Linked DNA regions of Homo sapiens. The protein of the gene in region 1 purifies or fractionates together with the protein of each later gene. This does not show direct contact. Each region holds a gene or a part of one and is shown on either strand. Other genes may lie near its edges. The genes, in order: URM1 and NSUN2.

Region 1 (3,817 bases):
ATATGTCAGTTGAGTTTGAATAGCAGATCTTATAAGACATAAGAGAGTCTGGCCTTGGTCTCTCCTGGGCTAGAACAGGCCCCTTGTCTGCCTCCCTGAATCACTCTTGAGGCTGGGCATGCACCTTCCCCCACTCCAGATGTGCTGACAGCAGAAATGCCAACCCCTCCCTTGAGGGCCAGTGAATTCAGCAGTGACAGGTCACTCTCTGAGCGAGACTGGTTCTCCCTTCATCCGCTTGTAAAGGGAAAAACAGCCTCGGCCTCTGAGCCTGGCACCACCAGGTTTGGCCAGTCTTGGTTGTTTGCCTAAGTCCCAGTGCCTTCAGTTCCCATCCCTCTTCTCTGACCCCCAACTCCTGAGCCCCTTGCCTGTCACCCTCCCCCACCCCAGCTGCTGCATGTGCCAACCCCCCACCCAGGAGAAAACGAGGCTCTTGGAAGGGAATAAATGGAGGCTCTGTGCAGGCTTGCAGCTGAAATGGCCCTGTGCGCGGCCACAGATGGGCCTCCTCTCCCCCTCCACATTTCTGCATCAACAAAGCGTGACCTTGTTTGGATGACAGTCGCCCCATGTTTTCCCCATGACAATGCTTGCCTTGCCTTTGCCTCCCAGCGGGCTGTCTCAGGACATCTCTGTTCCCTGAAATTGGGAAAGGGTGGTGGGGTGGAAGACATCTCATTCTTCAAAAGTCTGGTGAGGCCTTTTCAGTTAAGATCCACAAGAAGTCTGAGATGGGAATTGGGAGACCCAGAGGGAGAAGCAGCATGGGGCGCTGAAAGAGCCCTGGCGCTCATCTCAGAAGCCTCAGCTTCTGGACTTGGCTCCAATCATCTCTGCAGTCCCCGCCTTCCCTTGGCCAGGTGCTGGGACACAGAAATGAACCAAACTCTGCCCTCAAGAGGCTTTCTGACCTTTGGGAAGTCCTGTTTTTTTCTGACCAGTCTGCTGGTGCTAAGCAGGAATCAGTTAGACTGAAATTATAGTTCAGCCCCTGCCTCTCTAACCTTGGACAAGTTGGTTGCTTAACCTCTCTAGGCTTGAGTCTGCTTTTCTATCAAAGTGAGCAAATAATATCTACCTCCTTCCTTCTTCCCTGGGACTCCCTGAGGATGAAATGAGATGAGGAACATCTTATAAATGGTGAGGCGATGTGAACAGTTGTTCTTAGTTGATGCCAGGCCTCATGGACTCTCTCAGCCTCCAGCACTGTGATGTACCCACCAGGTCAGCAGCAGGTGGCATGGGCAGGAGCATTCAAACCATCATCTGGCCAGAGGAAACCCCTAGATGCACAGGGTCTCCAGAGTGCCTCACAGTGGCTCCCCAACATTTTTCCAGATGGAAAGACTGAAGCTTAAGATTGAGTCAAGGCCAGGCATGGTGGCCCACACCTATAATCCCAGCACTTTGGGAGGCTGAGGCAGAAGGATTGCTTGAGCCCAGGAGTTCAAGACCAGCCTGGGCAATAGAGTGAGACCTCACTATGTTATAAAATATTTTTAAATTATTATTAGTTTTGAGATAGGGTCTCACTGTGTCGCCCAGGCTGCAGTACAGTGGCATGACCTTGGCTAACTGCAGCCTCAACCTCCCAGGTTCAGGTGATCCTCCCACCTCAGCCTCCCAAGTAGCTGGGACTACAGGCGCACACCACCATGCCCACCTAATTTTTGTAGTTTTTGTAGACACAAGGTGTTGCCATGTTGCCCAGGCTGCTCTTGAACTCCTGGACTTAAGCAATCCTCCCTCGCCTCTCAGCCTCCCAAAGTGCTAGAGTTACAGGTGTGAGCCACTGTGTCTGGCCCCCAAAGTATTTTAATAACAAAGAAAAAAGAAGATTGAGTCACACATCTAAGGTCTCAACATAGGGAGAGGTGGAGCCTGGGCTTCACATCGGGGCCGGCAGCTCCAAAGGCTGTGTTCTGCACCTGTGTGGTAAGCTGCCTCTCTAGAAGGCAGAGGAGTAAAAACAAGAGTCGGCAAATTTGGGTACTTGATTTTTTTTTTTTCTTTTTAAATAATTAGAGACAGAGCCAGGCATGATGACTCACAACTCTAATCCCAGCACTTTGGGAGGATTGCTTGAGCCCAGGAGGTCAAGACCAGCCTGGACGACATAGGGAGACCCTGTCTCTACAAAAAATAAAAATAAAATTAGGCAGGTGTGGTGACACGTGCCTGTGGTCCCAGCTACCTGGGGGCTGATGTGGGAGGTTTGCTTGAACCCAGGAGGTTAAGGTTGTATCAAGCTGAGATCACGCTACTGCACTCCAGCCTGGGTGACAGAGTGAGACCTTGTCTCAAAAAATAAATAAATAGGCCAGGCACGGTGGCTCACGCCTGTAATCCCAACACTTCGGGAGGCTGAGGCAGGTGGATCACGAGGTCAGGAGTTCAAGACCAGCCTGGCCACAATGGTGAAACCCTGTCTCTATTAAAAAAAAATACAAAAATTAGCCAGGTGTGGTAGCACGTGCCTGTAATCTCAGCTACTCTGGAAGCTGAGGCAGAGGATTGCCTAAACCCAGGAGGCGAAGGTTGCAGTGAGCCAAGATCGCACTACTGCACTCCAGCCTGGGCGACAGAGCGAGACTCTGTCTCAATAAATAAATTTTTTTAAAAAGTAAAATAAAATAATAAAAATAGGCCAGGCACAGTGACTCATGCTTCTGATTTCAGCACTTTGGGAGGCCAAGGCAGGGAGATTACTTGAGCTCAAGAGTTCGAGACCAGTCTGAGCAACATGGCGAAATCCCATCTCTACAAAAAGTACAAAATTAGCTGAGTGTGATGCCATGCACCTGTAGTCCCAGCTGCTTGGGGGTCTGATGTGGGAGGATTGCTTAAGCCTAGGAGGTCAAGCCTGCAGTGAGCTGTGATTGTGCCACTGAACTCCATGCTGGGTGACAAAGCAAGACCTTGTCTCAAAAATAAATAGATAATAATTTCCCGGGTGCCTAATGATAATAATAATTACATAGAGACAGGGTCTTGCTATGTCACCAAGGCTCTATTTCACTGAGGCTCATCTCAAACTCCTGGCCTCAAGCAGTCATCTCGCCTTGGCCTCCCACAGTGCTAGGATTCCAGGTGTGAGCCACCACACCTAGCCGGTACTTGATTATTAGTAAAAATTATATCCTACCTTGCCACATTAGAAGTCATATTTAGGAATTGGTCACTGGGTCTGGGCAGAGTGGCTTGTGCCTGTAATCCCAGTGCTTTGGGAGGCTGAAGTGGGAGGATTGCTTTAGGCCAGGAGTTTGAGATCAGCCTGGGTAACATAACAAGACTCCATCTCTACAAAAAATTTAAAGATTAACCTGATATGGGCCAGGCGCGGTGGCTCATGACTGTAATTCCAGCACTTTGAGAGGCCAAGGTGGGCGGATCACCTGAGGTCAAGAGTTTGAGACTAGCCTGGCCAACATGGTGAAACCCTCTGTCTAAAAATACAAAACTTAGCCAGATGTGGTGGCTCATGTCTGTAGTCCCAGCTACTCGGGAGGCTGAGGCACGAGAATCACTTGAACCTGGGAGGCGGAGGTTGCTGTGAGCTGAGATCACACCACTGCACTGCAGCCTGGGCAACAGAGTGAGACTAAACAGAGTAAAATAAAATTAAATATAAACATAAATATTAATATAAAAAGTAGCCTGATATGGTGGCATGCACCTGTAGTCCTAGCTACTTGGGAGGTTGAACAGGAAGGTCTCTTGAACCCAGGAGTTCAAGGTTACAGCGAGCTATGATTGCACTGCTGCATTCCAGCATAGGCGACAGAGTAAGAACCTGTCTCTAAGAAAGAAAGGG
Region 2 (3,817 bases), on another chromosome or scaffold:
TTTTTCCTAATTGTTGCTGATTTTTTTTTTTTCCTCAAGGGAAATATTAGTCGTCAAGAAGCTGTTAGCATGATCCCACCACTGCTCCTCAACGTGCGGCCTCATCATAAGGTAGCATATAGCAACTAGAAACGTGGGGGCGGGCAGCTTGTTACCAGTGTCATGCCTGTTTGTTTTGATGAAACCATTTTTTCTTAATATAATTAGTCCTTTTTTTCTTCTTTTCACTTTGGATAGAGAGTGATATGTACGTATCTTAGTTTCTTTTTTTTTTTTTTTTCTTTTTTGTCCTACTTAATTTTTATGGTTTAGAAAATTTTCTCCCCTTTAGTTTTACTGATTTGTTTACCATATGGATTGTCTTCAGTGATGGTGATTGGCTAAATTAGGTTGAAAATGATAGTGAACATGTATTGAGAGCTCATTGTATGGCAAGCATTACTCTGTGCTCTTTTTTCTTTTCTTTTTTTTTTTTTTGAGATGGAGTTTCACTCTTGTTGTCCAGGCTGGAGTGCAGTGGCGCGATCTTGGCTCACTGCAACCTCCGCCTCCTGAGTTCAGGCAATTCTCCTGCCTCAGTCTCCCAAGTAGCCGGGATTACAGGTGCGCACCACCACACCCTGCTAATTTTGTATTTTTAGTAGAGACGGGGTTTCTCCATGTTGGTCAGGCTGGTCTCGAACTCCCGACCTCAGGCGATCCGCCTGCCTTGGCCTTCCAAAGTGCTGGGATTACAGGTGTGAGCCACTGTGCCTGGCCTTGCTCTGTGTTTTTTAGGTGAATTAGTTGGCTTTATCATTCACACAACCCTCTAAGGGCAGATACTGTCACCATCTCCATTTTTCCAGATGAGGAAAAGGAAGCAAGGAGAAGTACTTGAACTGAGGTTACGGAGCTGTTAACTGGCTGAGCTGAGATTTGAGTCTAGGTAGCTCTGTTCCTTAGCATTATGTTTTCATGATTCTTACTTGTTCATCTCTATATTTAGTCTCTCTGGCTTACAGTTTCATTCTCCTCCCATCCTCTTTGGAGACTGTACCTATATCATTCTGTGATTTTGGGGCAGTGTAGAATCCCTAAAAGTAAATTATGTCATGCTATAGACTCTGTAAAGAAGTATATTTAGATCTTGGACTAGAAATTGAAAAACTAGAATTGCTTTAAATTAAATGTAGAATATTTGGTTTTTTAAAAACATGAAACAGTTTCTTGCTTTGTTAATAGATCTTAGATATGTGTGCAGCACCTGGCTCAAAGACCACACAGTTAATTGAAATGCTACATGCCGACATGAATGTCCCCTTTCCAGGTATGCATTGGACTTGTGTTCAAAATGGTAGGAATGCCACTTTGGCAGATTGTAGACAAGGAAAAGACTCTAACTTTGCCTGCTAATTTGGCTCTAAAGTCTCCTATGACAAGCAGTTGGGTTTTCCGTCTACCGGAAGTAGAACTGGACATCTTGCCTACCACCGTCAGTAGTACTCAAACAAACACACTCATACCATGGGGGAGCTTTATTTTAGAATTATGTGTGTTTTCTATAAAAACGAATGGCATTTCTTTTTTTTTTTTTTGAGATGGAGTCTCACTCTGTTGCCCAGGCTGGAGTGCAGTGGCGTGATGTTGGCTCACTGCAAGTTCCACCTCCTGGGTTCACGCCATTCTCCTGCCTCAGCCTCTCGAGTAGCTGGGACTACAGGTGCCCGCCACCATGCCCGGGTAATTTTTTGTATTTTTAGTAGAGACGGGGTTTCACCATGTTAGCCAGGATGGTCTCGATCTCCTGACCTCGTGATCCGCCCGCCTTGGCCTCCCAAAGTGCTGGGATTACAGGTGTGAGCCACCACGCCCGGCTGCAGATGGTGTTTCTTTATCAAGCCTACTTACAGAAGATAGATTTCACTGTTTGAATTTTTAGTAACAATTTCCCCTTTCCCCCACCTTTGTTCATTATTATTACTATTATTATTATTATTATTACTTACTGCCTTACATGAAGGGTAGTAGTGTGTAGTTAAAAGCTACCATCAGACTCCCTGGGTTCAAATCCTAATCGGCAAGTTACTTACAGTGTTAGACATCCCATGTGAAATGGGACGAATCAGTATGTAGCTTGCGAGGTGCTCAGGAAATGTTAGCTGTTATAGTGACACCACGCCCCTTTCTCTTAAGTGGAAACAAATACCCATCGTGATGTTTTAGAGTCAGCTTTCATCTCGTCCTATCTTTGTTCAGGCAAACTTCTCTAGTTCTGTTTTAATAGGCATATTTGTTAGGTCTGTTTTTTGAAATCCTCTTTTTTACATTGTTTAAAGATAATGCCTTGGCTAAAAAGCCTGCTTCACTTTTCCCTGTTTTTAGTTGTTTTCTCCACATTGGCAGTAAAGAGCCTTGGCGTCCCAGTAGCAGCAGGTTCTCCTTTTTGTATTGTGGATGTTTTGCATTTCATACTGTTGTGAAGAGTGGCTTTGATCATACATGTTGTTGGTATATTTGCCTTTTTGCTGGGGGTGTGAGAAGAACCAGAGATGAGCAGAGGTACACCCAGTAGACTTCCCAGCCTGCAGAGCCTCCCGGGAAGAGCTTCCGTGTTCAGGTGCTTGGGGCCCCACCCTAGGAGCCTGACTCACAGTCAGAGCAGGGTCCCGGCTTGTGTTCAGGATTTTGAAACATTTGTAAGGTGATTTTGTTGTTTCTACACCTTTCTCCTCATCTTTTTTTTTTGTAGTTAATCGTTACTAATAACAGAAAAGACATTTTTGGCATGGTAATTGGCACAAAGTGAATAATTGTTGAATAGATGACTTTTGAGGCTTTCAAAATTCGAGTGTCCATAAAATCCATCCAGAGCCACCTGGTTCCTTTTTTTGAACCACTTAACGTAATTCTGGAAAACCTTGACTGTGGGTCTTAAGTTTGGTGGATTGCTGCTTCTCACTGGCTGACCTTTGGAGGTCGCATATTTCAGGATGTGATTCCACTTAGGCTCCATTTCACCTGACACTGCAATTCTGTGCCTTCAGAGGGATTTGTTATTGCGAATGATGTGGACAACAAGCGCTGCTACCTGCTCGTCCATCAAGCCAAGAGGCTGAGCAGCCCCTGCATCATGGTGGTCAACCATGATGCCTCCAGCATACCCAGGCTCCAGATAGATGTGGACGGCAGGAAAGAGATCCTCTTCTATGATCGAATTTTATGTGATGTCCCTTGCAGGTATTTATCTTATTGGCCAAAAAGCCCAAATCCACTAAAGAAATCAAGTCAAATAGAGACTAAAATGAAGTTGTGCATGAATATGACACAATTGTACATAAGTCTTGGGGTGCGGAGAAAGATAGCGTGAGCCTAAACCAAAAGATGGACACGTAGATACGTCTTAATGAGAAGCAGCACAGCAGATGCTGGATAAAGAACAGAAAGGGGTGGTTGCAATAGCCTGCAGAAAGATAAAGAGAAAACAAAACAAAACAGAGAAAATACGTAAGAGGAAAATAGAATCGTAGACTCTTATTGTGGTGTGTTTTAGGATGTTATTGCTTGGAACAATTTGTGCACCCCAACTATTTTGTATTAGTTCTTCCAGTGAGTACAGTATATAAAAAACTTTGTCATAAAATAATACGTAATCACATTGGATTTTATGTTATTTAGTTGAATGAAAGAAATTTCGGAGTTCAAGCCCTTAAGAAATTCATTTTGCTTGTGTTTTTATACCTTTCTTGAGATAATACATCAACATTTTAGATATTTAGAGTTTAGATATAAAATAATACTCATGGTATAACTGAGTAACAAGTTTTTTTAAAAGGAA

Evidence for each region.
Region 2: the proteins of URM1 (region 1) and NSUN2 purify together in Homo sapiens (co-immunoprecipitation; one study listed by IntAct). This does not show direct contact.

Annotation. Positions count from the first base shown.
Region 1 is NC_000009.12:128,374,057-128,377,873, forward strand, and holds part of URM1 (ubiquitin-related modifier 1), read left to right. Parts: intron 1-3,817. UniProt on the Homo sapiens protein: Acts as a sulfur carrier required for 2-thiolation of mcm(5)S(2)U at tRNA wobble positions of cytosolic tRNA(Lys), tRNA(Glu) and tRNA(Gln). Serves as sulfur donor in tRNA 2-thiolation reaction by being thiocarboxylated (-COSH) at its C-terminus by MOCS3.
Region 2 is NC_000005.10:6,619,508-6,623,324, reverse strand, and holds part of NSUN2 (RNA cytosine C(5)-methyltransferase NSUN2), read left to right. Parts: intron 1-39; coding exon 40-111; intron 112-1,224; coding exon 1,225-1,309; intron 1,310-3,026; coding exon 3,027-3,219; intron 3,220-3,817. UniProt on the Homo sapiens protein: RNA cytosine C(5)-methyltransferase that methylates cytosine to 5-methylcytosine (m5C) in various RNAs, such as tRNAs, mRNAs and some long non-coding RNAs (lncRNAs).